Homo sapiens: one gene and its partner. The protein of the gene in region 1 purifies or fractionates together with the protein of each later gene. This does not show direct contact. Each region holds a gene or a part of one and is shown on either strand. Other genes may lie near its edges.

Region 1 (7,021 bases):
GTTCCAATTCCCTTTCTCCAGGAAGCAGTCAGTTTTGTTCTGAAAAGCTAATCAGGCTCTCCCCCAGCACTCTGGTCTCTGTCCTCCAGGAAAAATCCCCTCTCCACCCTTAAATTGTCCCGGTTCTCTCACCTTCAGCACTCCGGATGGCATAGACATCAATGAAGGACTCAAACTCTCCTGGGCCCAGGGGCCGATGGGAATGGATGTAGCCTCCGATACCCTCTGGGGAGGTGCCATAGGAGCCCACCAGAGCAGGAGGTCCAGTCAGGCTGCAGTCCCCATCCACCTCTGACTCATCCTCCCGCACGGGCGCTTCCTCCTCTGGTTCAGAGCCCCGAATGATGTCGTGGATGCCTAGCAGAAGGCTGTAGTCCATGATCTTCAGCTGCACTAGAAACTGAGACCCACTGACAAATCAGACACCTCTCTCTCACTCTTCACTGCTAGGTATCACCCCTGTACCTGTACCTTTGAATTTCTGGGGCCCTTCTGGGGAAAGGAAGTATAAAAATTGAGGTTGCAGGGCATACCACTGCCTTTAGTGCCTATATGTCCTAGTATCTAAGATCATCCTTTTAGCTTATTCCAGCCACCCCTTCCACGGGTCAGCTCCAGGGGTTTTTCATGTCTCATACTAAACCCCCATATAGGCAGAGGACCTGAAGAATAAAGGGAAGGGGAGGAGCTCCCTCATACCGTGAATGAAAGAGACAACTACCCTCTAGGGAGCAAAAAAAGGAAAGCCATTTCCCAGAGCACCCAATCATCACCTCCACATCTCTCTTCAGCTTCTCCAGAAATATTTTCTTCTCCTCTTCACCAATATATACTTTCTGGTTCTTGTTGAGAAAGTCCATATCCTTAAGGGTGGGCAATTCTTTAACCTAAGAATATGTAAAGGGACATCTTGGGAACATATCCCTTCCCCAAGGTCTCAGAACCCCACCTTCTGTCTAGGGCTCTATGCTAGCTCAGTTAGATCTCATCTAACTCCACACTGTGATGCTTCCCTGGTCTGTTCTCACCTCCAGTGACTTCCACAGACTCAGTCACTACAGCTGTATCCCAAATCACATCCCACTACTCTCTGCTTATGGTTTTTAGCCAAGACCCTCCAGGCTGACTTTTCTTTCTCCTCTTTTTTTTTTTTTTTTTTTTTGAGATAGGATCTCGATCACTCTGTTGCCCAGGCTGGAATGTAAGTGGTGTGATCTCAGCTCACTGTAGCCGCGACCTCCTGGACTCAAGTGATTCTCCCACCTCAGCCTCCCAAGTAGCTGGGACTACAGGCGCGTGCCACCACGCCCGGCTAATTTTTGTGTTTTTGGTAGAGATTACGTTGCTCAGGCTGGTCTGGAACTCCTGGGCTCAAGCAGTCCTGCCTTGGCCTTCTAAAGTGCTGGGATTACATGCATAAGCCACCATGCCCGGCCTGTGTCTTCTTAAGCAAAAGTAGCTGCTTGAATAAAATAACCCAGAATGGGAAGTGGAAGTTAAACACTTTGCTCTTCAAGTCTGGCAACCTCACCCATCCCCAAGCCTTCCATATGGAATAACCCATGCCAGTGTTAAAGCAGCTGCTCCCACTGCCCCTTCCAAACAATCCCCGGATCAACAGAAGTTTACCCCCTTCTTTTAAGTGGTTTAAGATAATAAATAGCTAGTAATCCCTATTCCTATATAGAGTGGCCTCTCCATCCTAAGAAGTTCCCCTCATCTGCCCTCCCTCATCCCTCATCCCTCACCCTAGCACATAAAATTACTATCACCTTTTCCTTATCGCTGGCTTCCCGGGACACTAGGGAACCCTGCAGAAAGACCCAAACACCAAGTCAGTAGAAGTGGCTAAAAGAACAGTCAGAACCCAGCCCCTAAGATGAGTACTCAAACCCAGCCTTCTTTCCCTTAAAAGGAATCATCCAAAGACCTCCCAGGGTCTTCCCCATTCTCAGGCTATCAGGAGCCTCCCTCTAAGTCCGAGCTACCCTCTTCTTACCTTGAGGTCATACTTCCTGTGCACAGGAAGACGGTGGCTAAACATATTGCGCATCACAAGCATGTAGCTGTCTTCGTTGTCCACACTGACTCGGTACATCCCCAGGAACTGGGGCAGAAGCGTGTTGCCATGGCACTTCACAATGTACTACAGTGAAAGAGGGGGAAGGAATGGGGAGAGGCTGAGTAGCAGATACACAAACAGCCCAGGGAAGTTCAAACACTGCCATTCCAGGGTAGAGCAGAGGACTTCAAGTAGAGAGATTACAAAGTCAAAAGTGGTGGAAGCTTCCCCAAAACACTCCAGGTTATCCATGCCGTTTCTGAATCCCCCTTTCCTCTGATTCCTTCCATTTGTACATCTCTTAATTTTTAAGTGTCATCTCTCAATTCACCTTTATCATTCTTTGAGATGAGGAAGGTTAAGTGTTATTATCCTTATTTTAGACCCTTTCTATATGCAAGTGGCACAGAACCAGGATTACAACTTATATCTTATCAATGAAATCATTTTATCTAGAGCAGTGTTTCTTCATAGGCTAGATTCCCATAATTTAAAATGTCTGCATTGGGTTGGGCTGTGCTGTGTCATTCTGTCACTGTAATATAAATACAGATTTTTATACCTAAAAAAAAAAAAAAGTCTGCATGATGGCCTACAATTTGGATTTTTTTTTTTTTTTTTTTTGGAGATGGAGTCTCACTCTGTTGCCCAGGCTGAAGTGCAGTGGCACAATCTAGGCTCACTGTAACCCCCGCCTCCTCCCAGGTTCAAGCAATTCTCCTGCCTCAGCCTCCCGAGTAGCTGGGAGTACAGGCGCACACCACCACGCTCAGCTAATTTTTTGTATTTTAGTAGAAGCGGGGTTTCACTGTGTTACCCAGGCTGGTCTCGAACTCCTGAACTCAGGCAATCTGCCCACCTCGGCCTCCCAAAGTGCTAGGATTACAAGCGTGAGCCACTGCACCCGGCCTACAATTTGGATTCTTTTTTAAAAATTCTCCTGTTAAGCCAGGCTCACACCTGTAATCCCAGCTACTTGGGAGGTTGAGGCAGGAGGATCGCTTGAGCCCAGGAGTTTGAGACCAGCCCGGGGAACACAGTGAGATCCTGTCTCTAAAAAACAAAAATTACTCCTTCAGTGCTTACCATCTCTCTTTCTGTGTTGCTGCCTCTTTCTCTTCACAGCCAACCTTCTCAGGAAAGTAATCAGCAAGAAATCCATTTCCTGTCTCTCATTCACACGTTGAATCACTGAAATCAGGTTTATACCTCATTTCTCCTCTGAAATCTCCCCCATATCCCTCAGTTGTCAAATCTAGTAAGTATTCTAGTCATTGTCATATTTCAGCTTTGTGGCACTTGATCCTATTGACCAGTCTCTCCTTAAAAGTCTCCTCATCCTCAGCTCTTATTATACCACCCTCCTGATTCCCCTCCTCTCTGTCGTCGAATCCCGTATGGAATGTAGCATGGCATAAATAATTAAAAGTGTCCATCTACTCTTAGTTTCCTTTATGGGCTCATTTCTTCACTTGTTCCTTTAGGTTCTGTCCTCAACCTTCTTTTCATTTCACTGCACACAACCTCCCTACAATAATCGTATCTATAGCCATGGTTTTAATGATCACTTACTCACATATAATTCTCAAACCTATACTCCCAGTCTAATCCTCTTTCCTGAATTCTGTACACATACCCCAACCACTTACTGGACATCCTCATCTGGATGAATTGCAGAAACCTCAAATTCAGTATGTCCAAATCAGAACTTTCTTCCTCCAAAAACCTGTTCCTCTGTTTCTAATTTCTGGTGAATAGGCACCCAGTTATCCCTAACCAGGAACTTGGAGGCCCCTGTGTCTTAACTCTCAGTTCTCCCATAGGTCTTCCTTTCTATCCCCACCACCATCGCTCCCCCAGGCCTTCATTGTTTCTACCCTGGACTATTAAAATTACCTCCTAACTGGTATCCACCCTTCCAGTGTTCCCTCCCACCAATCCATTCTCTAAAACGCTGTCACATTTTCTAAATATTTCTAAATAACAAATATATCACGCCCCTTGCAAAACCACCTTCAGGATAAAGTCCAAACTTCTTTGTGGGGCTTATAAGCCTCTTTACAATCTGGCTCCTGCCTATTTCCACAGTACTACATCCCATCCAAATGGAATTTCTTGCTGTTTTCTAACACCAAGTTCTCTCATGGCTCTGTGCCTTACAAGTGCTGTTTTCCTTTGCCTAGAATGCTCTTCCACCCTGTCCAATGGTTAACCTCTACTAGTCCTTCAAGGATCAACTCTTACAGTATCTCCTCTAAAAAACTCTCTTTAGCCTCCCAGGTGCATTTCCTTCCCCAGGTGAGTTCGGATGCTCTTCACTAGCTTCAGAATATTCTGTACAGACTTCTACTATTGTATATATCTTGCGGTGTGCTAATACTGGGTCACTGGTCACTGCCATCAGACCAAGGGATCTGTAAGGGCCACAGATGTTTCATTTACCTCCTACTCTACTGCCTAACATAGGGCCTAATAAGAGGTATTCAATATTTGTTGCATAAACCAAAGACTCCTTTTGGACTCTGATGTATTCCTTGCTCACTGATTTTGGTGAAATTTTTCTTCAGTAGAGATGTTCAAGAAGAGTGTTTTTACTGCCAAAACATTCCATAAACTCCACATTCCAAGTAAATCTTTTTTTTTTTAATCTTTTTTTTTTTTTTTAGGCGGAGTTTTGCTCTTGTTGCCCAGGCTGAAGTGCAAATGCACGATCTCGGCTCACTACAACCTCCGCTTCCCGGGTTCAAGTGATTCTCCTGCGTTAGCCTCCTGAGCAGCTGGGATTACAGGCATGAGCCATCATGCCCAGCTAATTTTGTACTTTTAGTAGAGACGGGGTTTCTCCATGTTGGTCAGACTGGTCTCGAACTCCCGACCTCAGGTGATCCTCCCGCCTCAGCCTCCCAAAGTGCTGGGACTACAGGTGTGAGCCACTGCCCCCAGCCTGTAAATCTTATCAGACAGAATAGCTTCCCTCATCCCATTTAGGGCTGGATATGATTATGGATTCTCTCTTCCAATGAGTTTTCTCCCCAGTTGGCATCTATTACTGACAATAGCTGAGCTATATGTGAGTAGGGAGGAGAGGGAAAGAATGGGGCTAGAGAGAGGCCTGACCTGGTGATAGTTGGAGAGGTTGCTATGCATGTCAGCAATGTCCTCACTGGATACTTCTTTGATGACCAGAGTCCGATCGTAGGAGATAAGGAAGCGACCATCACTGCCTTCACTTTCGCTGGGGGGGTTTCGGGTAAGGGACACCTGGGGACACAGAATAGGCCAGAGCTCTTTTCCTCCCTCTTTATATGCAGAAACAAGTCATAGGAAAATGGTCAGCTGAAAGTGGATGAATCCCTGGGGTAGGAGATTCAGCACAGTTCCTCATCAGGTGTCCATATGTGGACTGAAGGAAACTGAATGCAAAATTCTTTTTTTTTTTTTTTTTTGACAAGGAGTCTCGCTCTGTCACCCAGGCTGGAGTGTAGTGGTACGATCTCAGCTCATTGCAACCTTCGCCTCCCAAGTTCAGGTGATTCTCCTGCCTCAGCCTCCCAAGTAGCGGGGACTAGACGTGCGCCACCACACCTGGCTAATTTTCATATCTTTAGTAGAGACAGGGTTTTGCCATGTTGGCCAGGATGGTCTCGAACTCCTGACCTCAGGTGATCTGCCCGCCTCGGCCTCCCAAAGTGTTGGGATTACAGGCGTGAGCCACAGCGCCTGGCCAAAATTCTTAATGTATCTACATCTTTTCCCCCAAGGACAAGGTTTATAATTTTCATTAAATTTTTGAAAATGCTGCAATCACAAAAAGGTAAAGAATTATATTTGCCAAGACTCTCATTTCTCCAAATATGGCTGTCCCAAATAGTACTCCTCAGTTGCTGGGGAGAAAGGGCTACCCTCACCCCTTAATGGACTCTCACCAAGTAATCTTGGTCATCAATGCCAAATCGATCACGGAGGTTCCTGAAGACCTGGGGACAATACTCCTTGAACTTGAAATGACTGGGCAGATTTTCCCTGAAATTCAGGTTTTCAAAGTAAGAAAACAAACAATATTACATTTACATACACTTGGTAGTTTATAAAGTACCTTCAGACATATTACCTCATTTGATTCTCATAAAACCCTGTGAGGTCCTTTTTTTTTAATTTTTATTTGTTATTATTATTTTTTGAGACAGAGTCTCACTCTGTTGCCAGGTTGGACTGCAGTGGTGCAATCTCGGCTCACCACAACCTCCATCCCCCGGGTTCAAGCAATTCTCCTGCCTCAGCCTCCCAAGTAGCTGGGACTACAGGCATGCGCCACCATGCCTGGCTAATTTTTTGTATTTTTAGTAGAGATAGGGTTTTGCCATGTTTGCAGGCTGGTCTCGAACTCCTGACCTCAAGTGATCCACCCGCCTTGGCCTCCCAAACTGCTGGGATTACAGGCATGAGCCACCACGCCTGGCCCTTGTGAGGTCCTATAAAAACATATTATTTCCATTTTATAGAAGAGGAGACTGTCTCAGAGTGATTCAGTGACCTGCCTAAGTAACATGGTTGGTAAGTGGTATAGTAGAGCCAGGATCTACTACCCATCCAAACAGCAGCATTTCCCAAATCTCAAGCAAGTCAGAAGCATTCTAAAGTCAGCAACAGACACCACTGTTTTGAATGGCATCTTCTTTTCCTAGGAGGGCTTAGTAGAGAATTCAAGTTTTTCTTTCAAGGAGTCCCTGTCAGAAGCTAATGGTTCTCATGGCATCTCCAAGGTCACAAGCAGAAAAAGAGAGAAAGAGCAGGTAATGGTATCTGTACATATTTACTCTATGGAATTGCCAGGCTAGAGGAGAGATAACACTGATTCATATAAGGATATAGGGAACACCAGAAATTATTCTCATGGTTTCCTTGCACAAAACTAATTTCTGCATTTGGGAAGGATGTTAAATTTTCAACTCACTGAAA
Region 2 (8,020 bases), on another chromosome or scaffold:
AACCAAATATTCTTGGTCCTTAAGGATACACAGAAGAGAGTGATTCTCAACCACAAAGAAATGAAGGTGACGGGGTCTGTGATGGGGACTTAAATGAACAAGAGGTTTAGAAACACTAATTCAAGTCTATCCCCTTCATAATACAAATAAAGAACCTATGACCCATTAGACCTATAAACTTCTTGAGTAAAGGAACTGAGTTTTGTCTACCAAAATGCATTGTAAACATTCAAAATAAAAACTTGTTTGAATGAGTGAAATTAAAGGCATACCCAAGATCAAAAACTAGTTAGTGTCAGAGTTAAGCCAATGATAATATCTCTCAGTTGGAGGTCTTATTTTGCCTATCCCACCTTTATGGAAGGGTCCCATTATCACTATGCTGAAGGCCCAGAAAAACACTGGTGAAGGTGGACTTTCACACGAAGCCGACTCTGTACTGCAGAGTGGCATGTGGGAATATTAATACAGAGTGCTCTTATGATCAACTCTTTAAGAAGAGCAGGGAAAGAAGTAGGATTAGGCAAAGGAAAAAGTTTAACTGTGGTGTAGTACCAAAGGAGGCCTCGAGGCTTTTGACTCGAAAGCAGGGGTCCCCAACCCCCAGGCCACGGACCAGTTCCTTTACTCACATTTCTTGTGCACACCCATATATCCTTTCTCATACCCCTCTACCTCAGACATCCTTGTTCCCAATCTACTAATTCTTCTTCCAAGTCCCTTTCCAACCAGCCAAGCCATTCACCCTTCCCCATGAGTCCATGTATATTTTAACCTGGGGCTATTTCTCTTACTACACAAAGTGAATGATGAAGTGCACCTTCCAAAGATCTGCCCATCAGGAGGATATTCCCTGATCACTTCTCTTTCAAGGACACACAAATAGAGCTGTAGTTCAACTACAAAATCAAACTGACCCATCCGTGAATCTAATGTGGGCTTTTTTTGCTTCACCAACTGATCAAAGGTATCACCCATGGAGATATAAGTTGAGGGAAAGGCACTTGGGCAATGGTAGTGGATGACATGAAAGAGTCCAGTCCACCTGCTCATGCAGCTTGCACCCTCTGGTCCTGCTTGTGTTCACTCCTGCACGTACCACTTTCATCTTAGGATAGATCATTACTGAACAACTGTGACCCCGATGTCACCTGTGTGATATCTCAGCGCCAAGCAACACATCTCTCCCAGGGCTCTGCAGCACGCCAGGAGCTATTTTTCAAAAGGTATATAAATCTCTGCTGTGTATTCTGAACATGCTTCTGAATTCAACAAGTTTGTGTTGTGAGTCTCCCATTGAAACTTGCCATAAACTCCACACATCCCTATCTTCCATTCTGTGTCTTTTTCCACCACTGATATCCCTTATATGCAAATGTATGGCGCTACCACCCATATGCAGTAAAATCTATCATAATTTTTTCTGAGTTTTAGCTAGTATAATATCTTAAATGTAAATATACAAAATTTCTTTTTCTTGAATCTATGCTTTAAATTCAGTCTCCACATTCAACTTTTTCTGTAATTAACCTAACCTATGGGCAAGCAGGAGAGGTTAAAAAGTGGCCAGAATCATTAAAGACAACAGGCTACAGAAGATTAGAGGGAGGAGCACTTACTTCCCTTTGAGAGTGTGAGAGGTTGAATGATGACCCATCCAAAAATATCCACATACTAATTTCTAGAACCTAAGAATTTATCCTATATGGAAAAAAATATTTTACAGATGTTATTAAGGGTCTGAGTGGATCCTAAGTGCAATTACATGTATTTGTATAAGACAGAGACAGAAGGAAACACACACACTCACGAGTAGAGAAGGCAATAACGTAAGCATGGAGACAGAGACTGGAGTGATGTGCCACAAGCCAAAAGAATGCCAGCAGTCACCAAATCCCAGTAGGAGCTGCAAAAGGCAAGGAACAAATTCTCCACTAGAGCCCCTCTTGGGGGAACATGGTCCTGTCAACACGTTGATTTTGACCCAGTAAAAATAATCTCTTATTTCCAGCGTCCTGAACTGTAAGAGAATAAAGTTCTATTGTTTTAAGTCGTCAAAGTTTGCGGTAATATGTTAACAGCAGCAAGAGAAAATTAATATAGAGATAAATAGGAATAATAAAGAAAAACCTTATGTGGTGAATAGAATTTTAATGGTAGATAAGATTTACATATATTGTGATTGAAAAAGAAGAAAAACAGTAGGGAAGAGGTAATATTACAGGTGGAGGGAAAAGTATTACAGGTGAAGGGAAAACTTAGTAAAAAAGAAATTTAAGGGAGTTATACAGGGAAAACAAAAGTAGTTCAATTAGACAAGAGTACAAACTGCTTGAAGATGGTGATACAGATTGTTGACAATCCTGAATGCCAGTCTAAACGTGCACTTTGATCTGTAGACAGTTAAGGTTCTCTGCAACTTGTAAGGACAGGGTCAGGGCAGGGGAGGTAAGGGAGGAGGAAACACCAACATGATACACCTTTTGCACATCTGTGTCACACTACTCTCTATTTTTCTACTCTTCACCCTCCAACACAGGTATGAGGGTTGAGATTGATTCCCCAGGACCTAGTAAAAAAGTATGGCATATATGTTTGATGAATAGTGAATGCATTAACGAATAATACTGTACATGTTTTGTTTTACTCATCACTAAGCATGGTATGAGGGAGTAGAACAGAATACCAAACTGCACTTCAATCACTTACTTTTACTCTTCAAAGTTCTGATTATTAAAATGATTTTATTTTAAAAGTAATATTCCAAATATAAGAGATTTGGACTTAATGTGATTAACCGTAAGGCATACTTCAGAACACCAATAGCAATTCTAGTCAATTCCACTCAGTTAATGGTGGCTGTCTGAGGCAATGTTGAGAAATAATGTAAGAATTACACCATAATAGATTAGGAACATTTGCTAAAGTGCTGGATTCGGAGTAGAAACATAAATGGCTTGTTTCCCATTCCATTCTTGCTCTAGAAGTTAGTTATTTGCATACAAATGGCCAACAGGTACATGAAAAATTGCTCAACATCACTAAGTATATAAGAAATGAAAATCAAAGCCATAATGAGATATTATCTTACCCCAGTCCAAATGGCTACTGTTAAAAAGACAAAAAATAATGGATGTTGGTGAAGATGCGGAGAAAAGAGAACTCTTATACACTGTTGATGAGAATGTAAATTAGTACAGCCACTGTGGAAAAGTATATGGAGATTTCTCAAAAAATTAAAAATAGAATTATTCAATCCAGCAATCCCACTATTGGGTATCTACCCAGAGGAAAGAAATCAGTATATCAAAGGGATACCTACACTTGCATGTTTATCGCAGCACTATTCACAATAGCAAAGCTATGGAATCAACCTAAGTGTCCATCAACAGATGAATGGATAAAGAAAATGTGGTATATATACACAATGGAGTACTATTCAGACATAAAAAATGAAATCTTGCCATTTGCAGTAACGTGGATGGAGCTGGAGGTCATTATCTTAAGGGAAATAAGCCAGGAACAAAAAGACAAATATCACACGCTCTTACTTATATGTGGAAGCTAAAAAATTTGATCACATTAAGGTAGAGAGTGGAAAGACAGATAACAGACTGGGAAAGATGAGGGGAGTGGGAACAGGATGAAGAGAGTAGGTTAAAGGTTACAAACATGGAGTCAGATAGAAGGAATATATTCACTGCTTGATAGTAGAGTAGGGTAACTATAGTTACACAAAAATATATTGTATTTGGATGACAGACACCCTAAATACTTGTAACAAAATTTCTCACGTACCCCATAAATTTGTACAAATAAAGTTAGTCACTTGGTTTTTTTAAAAACTTTTCGCCCAGGCGCGGTGGCTTATGCCTGTAATCCCAGCACTTTGGGAGACTGAGGGGGGCGGATCACCTGAGGCCAGGAGTTTGAAACCAGTCTGGTCAACAGGGCGAAACCCCATCTCTACTAAAAATAAAAATATTAGCAGGGCGTGGTGGTGTGAGCCTATAATCCCAGCTACTTAGGAGGCTGAGGGAGAAGAATCCCTTGAACCTAGAGGGCAGAGGTTGCAGTGAGCCAAGATCGCGCCCCTGTACTTCAGTCTGGGTGACAGAGCCGGGCTCTGTCTCAAAAATAAAAAAAAAATTCATTTCTATGCCTTCTTATGTAAGTACAGAAAGAAAAATTCCGTTTAAATGGAGATGTTCATTGGTTGAAGATGGTTAATCAAAGACATGCTGCATTCAAGTAAAAAGCAGACAAAGGCTTGAATATCGAGGAGTTGCAGAGCCAGTATGGGTAACTATTCTAAAATCCTTAAATCGCTCCTGGGCCCTCGAAGTCCTACCCGCGTAGGTCAGCCCGAACTATCAAAATCCCCACTTCCTCTGGAGGTAAGGACGTCCGCCGCGCTCTCCACGTGTCACCTTAAACTCCCACCCCAACCAGCGCAGGCGCACTTCGAAGCCTCCTAGACCAACCTAAGAGAAGTACTGAGCAAGCGCATGAGTTCCATTAACCACGCCCTCCGGAGCTGCCGGAGCAGGCGCAATTAGGAGTAGAGGGCGTGCTTGTGTGATTACAGTCCACTTTACCTTTAACAGATTTGGTTGTCTGGACTCTAGCTCAGGTTCTTTTACCCCTGTCTTGTTGGAAGTCACTTTGCCTAGAGTAGAAGTTGTTTGCGGGAAAAATTTGCTCCTCCCATTAAGTAACCACTTTGCTCTCTGAGGCGGAACGTGTCATTGAGGCAGCAAGTCCTGACAGATATGGAAAAAAAAAGGCACATTGTAGAGAATATCTACACTCCGCCAACTCAGTCACAACGCAAAAATTACACAAAAATAAAACGTTCACTTGTTACATACTATGTGTTTCATAAGACATACAAGTAGTTTTATTTTCCTATATCAATGAGAACAGCACTTCTAACTATTAACAAGGACCTATACTAAGACGCAGCGCGTGCGCGAGCCATCTGGCGCTGTAAAGCGCTTAGAGGCTGGAATAACGACCTGCCTTACGCTTTGCGGCTGTCGTCGGAGAGGCATCTGGGTTCGGACTGGGGCCGCCATGGGGAAAGTGAATGTGGCCAAGTTGCGTTACATGAGCCGAGATGACTTCAGGGTCTTGACCGCGGTAAGAAACCCGCCGTTCCTGTTCTCCCTTCCCCTTAACACTGTGTGACCTCTTCCTGTTCCTGCAAGTTTTCTGGGATCTGAGCAGGCACACTCTGGGACCCGGGACGTGGCAGAAGCTGGGAATGGAGAAGAGAGCATTCAGAAAGTCGGATTTTTAAAAAGGTTTTGTTTGGGAGCTTACCTTCCCCCAGATAGAGCAAAGGTCCCGTCTTCTAATAATTGTTTTCTTTTCTGCTGCTATTCGCTTTGCGCTGAAGAGAAACGCTTGCATCTCTGTGGCCTGGAAACTTCTCTGATCCTGAGCTTCCGACCAGCTGTGAAAGGTTTAAGCCCCCCCCCCCCCCCGAGATTTGATAATATTGACTTCCCTACTAACAGACTCAGTCGCATAGCAGTCTTTCTGATTCATTCAGTCAACACATATTTGTCGGTTTTTTAGTAGCAACATTAGGAGGTTCACTTGTTCAAACAGACAAGTGGAGAGAGAGACACAGATCATCAAGTAAACGAAAAATAGGATAATGGATAAATGCTATGAAAATGATAAAGGATAATGGCATAGAAAGTATATGTATCTGGTGGAGAGGAGGGGCACAAGTTATTGGCCTTTGGTAGACAATCAATAAATATTCACTAAATGAAAGAATGAATGGGGGAATAATAGGAGCTGTGTGAGAAAGAGACAGCCCAGTGAAGTCCTTGGAAAGAGTTGGAGGCAGAGGAAACAGCAGTAGTAAGTGCAAAGGCCTTGAGACAGAAAAGTCTTTGAAGAGAGGAAAGGCCAATGTAATGTGGCTGGAGCAAAGTGAGATGCACACTAATGGTTGGAGATGTAGCGGAAAAGGTGAGAAATTATGTACTACAGAGCCTTGGAGGTTTGGTAAAGAATGTGGGGGTAACCACTAAATGTTTTTAATCAGGGGAGTAACAAAATCTGATTTTATGGCCTCAGTCTTATGGCACAGAAATTAATATATAGATCAAGACATTTGTACATTTATTTAGGAGCCGTTATCTTTTGGTAAGGAGTGAACCCCATGATAAGGACTACCTATATTGTGTAATTATGTAATAGGATATGCGATGTGAGTCACACTGGTTCTTGCATTATGTTAAGGCTTCAAGTTTTGGATTTTTAAAATTAATCTTAAATAGCGCTTAAGTATTAAACTATCAAATGCAAAATCAGTGTGAAATTTGGAAGACAATGTTTACTTTGCCTCTCATGTAGATTCTTCTAATCAGCTGGACTTTCTCTATGAAAACCTACTATCACTTCGGAAAGATACCTTCCTTTCCTGCTTTCTCAGCACACTCATTCCTTAGTGTCTCTGACAGAAGTAGGGGTCAAAAGTAAGAGTGTTAGAGGACGGGGGAGGCAGAGACAAAGCATGGAAAATAAGTTAAATTTAAAAGTTAAGGTTTTGGTGAGACATCAAAATGATGCCAGATTTATCTTCCAAAACATTGGCGCTGCAATATTTAAATTATTTGTAAAGTTCACCAAGAAATGACTTAGTCATTAAATATGACATTCCGGTCTCAGTTGAATCTCACCAGTGTTGGTACCCTTTCTTGGGCCTCTCTTCCCTTTTACTTCTTTGGCTCCTCCTATATCAATAATCATTGTTTGACTAGCTGCCCTTAGCTTTCAATATGAACTTGCCCCAGAATTCTGCTCCCAAACATTCCTTTTCTTCCATTATCTCCTGCTCAGTGATAGCATCCACTTCACATCTTCAACTCTCACTTCTATAAAATAATTGACAATTTTTCCTTCTAATTATAACTTCATTCCTAAATATAGGCCCCTTTCCTATTTAATTTTCTCTCTTTCTTTTTTTTTTTTTTTTGAGACGGAGTCTTATTCTGTTGCCAGGCTGGAGTGCAGTGGCACAATCTCAGCTCACTGCAACCTTCACCTTCTGGGTTCAAGCGATTCTCCTGCCTCAGCCTCCCAAGTAGCTGGGACTATAGGCGCACACCACCACGCCCAGCTAATTTTTGTATTTTTAGTAGAGATGGGGTTTCACCATGTTGGCCAGAATGGTCTCGATCTCTTGACCTCGTGATCCACCCACCTTGGCCTCCCAAAGTGCTGGGATTACAGGTGTGAGCCACTGCACCTGGCCTCCAGTTTTCCTTTAAACATTTTTATTTGACTCTCAGTGCTCAAACCAAATTCAATTTTTTTCTACCCCCTTTCTCTTTTCCCAAGCTCTATAAAAAAAAAAAATAATAAAATCTTAAAACTTGCTTTTCCTCATCACTTCCAATTGTGGCTTTCCGTTCCCTTTACCCTTCCACATCTAATTGCCAAGCTCTCCCATAATACTTCCTAAAGATTTTTATTCCTTCCTTCCAGTACCACTACCACTTACCCTGTTCTGGTGGCTCTTTCCTCTGAGCTGGACTTCTGTCTTAGTTCTCCGGAGTACCCCCTCAGATTTTGCCATCTCTAAGCCAATTTGCATATTCCTGGTACATTAATGTCCTTAAAATAACCCTGTTCGTGTGTCTCCCACGCCTAAACATCTTCAAGAGCTTCCTGCTCTCATCAGGATAAAATATAAAAGTATTTGGTCTACATTTTAATGCCTTCTCTATCCTAGAAGTATCTTCCAGCCGCGTTTGCATGAATTCTATATGCTATCCCATCTGAGCTGCTACTGTACTCAGCTATTCTCTGTGGTCAGTACTTTCTTGCATATGTGCCATTTTCAAATCTTTTTCTTTCACTAATATCCCCTTGTCTGTTTTCTCTGTATGCCCACATCTTTTAAAAGTCAGTCTCTAGTTTTGCATCTTCCTTGGAACTGATCCCTCAGCTAGAAGTATTCTTATTCTGCCCTGAGCTACCTTTTTAAGCACTTATC

Evidence for each region.
Region 2: the proteins of PIP4K2C (region 1) and RIOK2 purify together in Homo sapiens (affinity purification with mass spectrometry; 2 studies listed by BioGRID and IntAct, with this or other methods). This does not show direct contact.

Annotation. Positions count from the first base shown.
Region 1 is NC_000012.12:57,594,190-57,601,210, reverse strand, and holds part of PIP4K2C (phosphatidylinositol 5-phosphate 4-kinase type-2 gamma), read right to left. Parts: intron 6,086-7,021; coding exon 5,989-6,085; intron 5,324-5,988; coding exon 5,180-5,323; intron 3,254-5,179; exon of another isoform or gene 3,152-3,253; coding exon of another isoform or gene 3,149-3,151; intron 2,147-3,148; coding exon 2,000-2,146; intron 1,812-1,999; coding exon 1,773-1,811; intron 1,460-1,772; coding exon of another isoform or gene 1,409-1,459; exon of another isoform or gene 1,394-1,408; intron 888-1,393; coding exon 774-887; intron 401-773; coding exon 133-400; intron 1-132. UniProt on the Homo sapiens protein: Phosphatidylinositol 5-phosphate 4-kinase with low enzymatic activity. May be a GTP sensor, has higher GTP-dependent kinase activity than ATP-dependent kinase activity. PIP4Ks negatively regulate insulin signaling through a catalytic-independent mechanism.
Region 2 is NC_000005.10:97,180,248-97,188,267, reverse strand, and holds the start of RIOK2 (serine/threonine-protein kinase RIO2), read left to right. Parts: upstream 1-5,020; 5' UTR 5,021-5,076; coding exon 5,077-5,142; intron 5,143-8,020. UniProt on the Homo sapiens protein: Serine/threonine-protein kinase involved in the final steps of cytoplasmic maturation of the 40S ribosomal subunit. Involved in export of the 40S pre-ribosome particles (pre-40S) from the nucleus to the cytoplasm.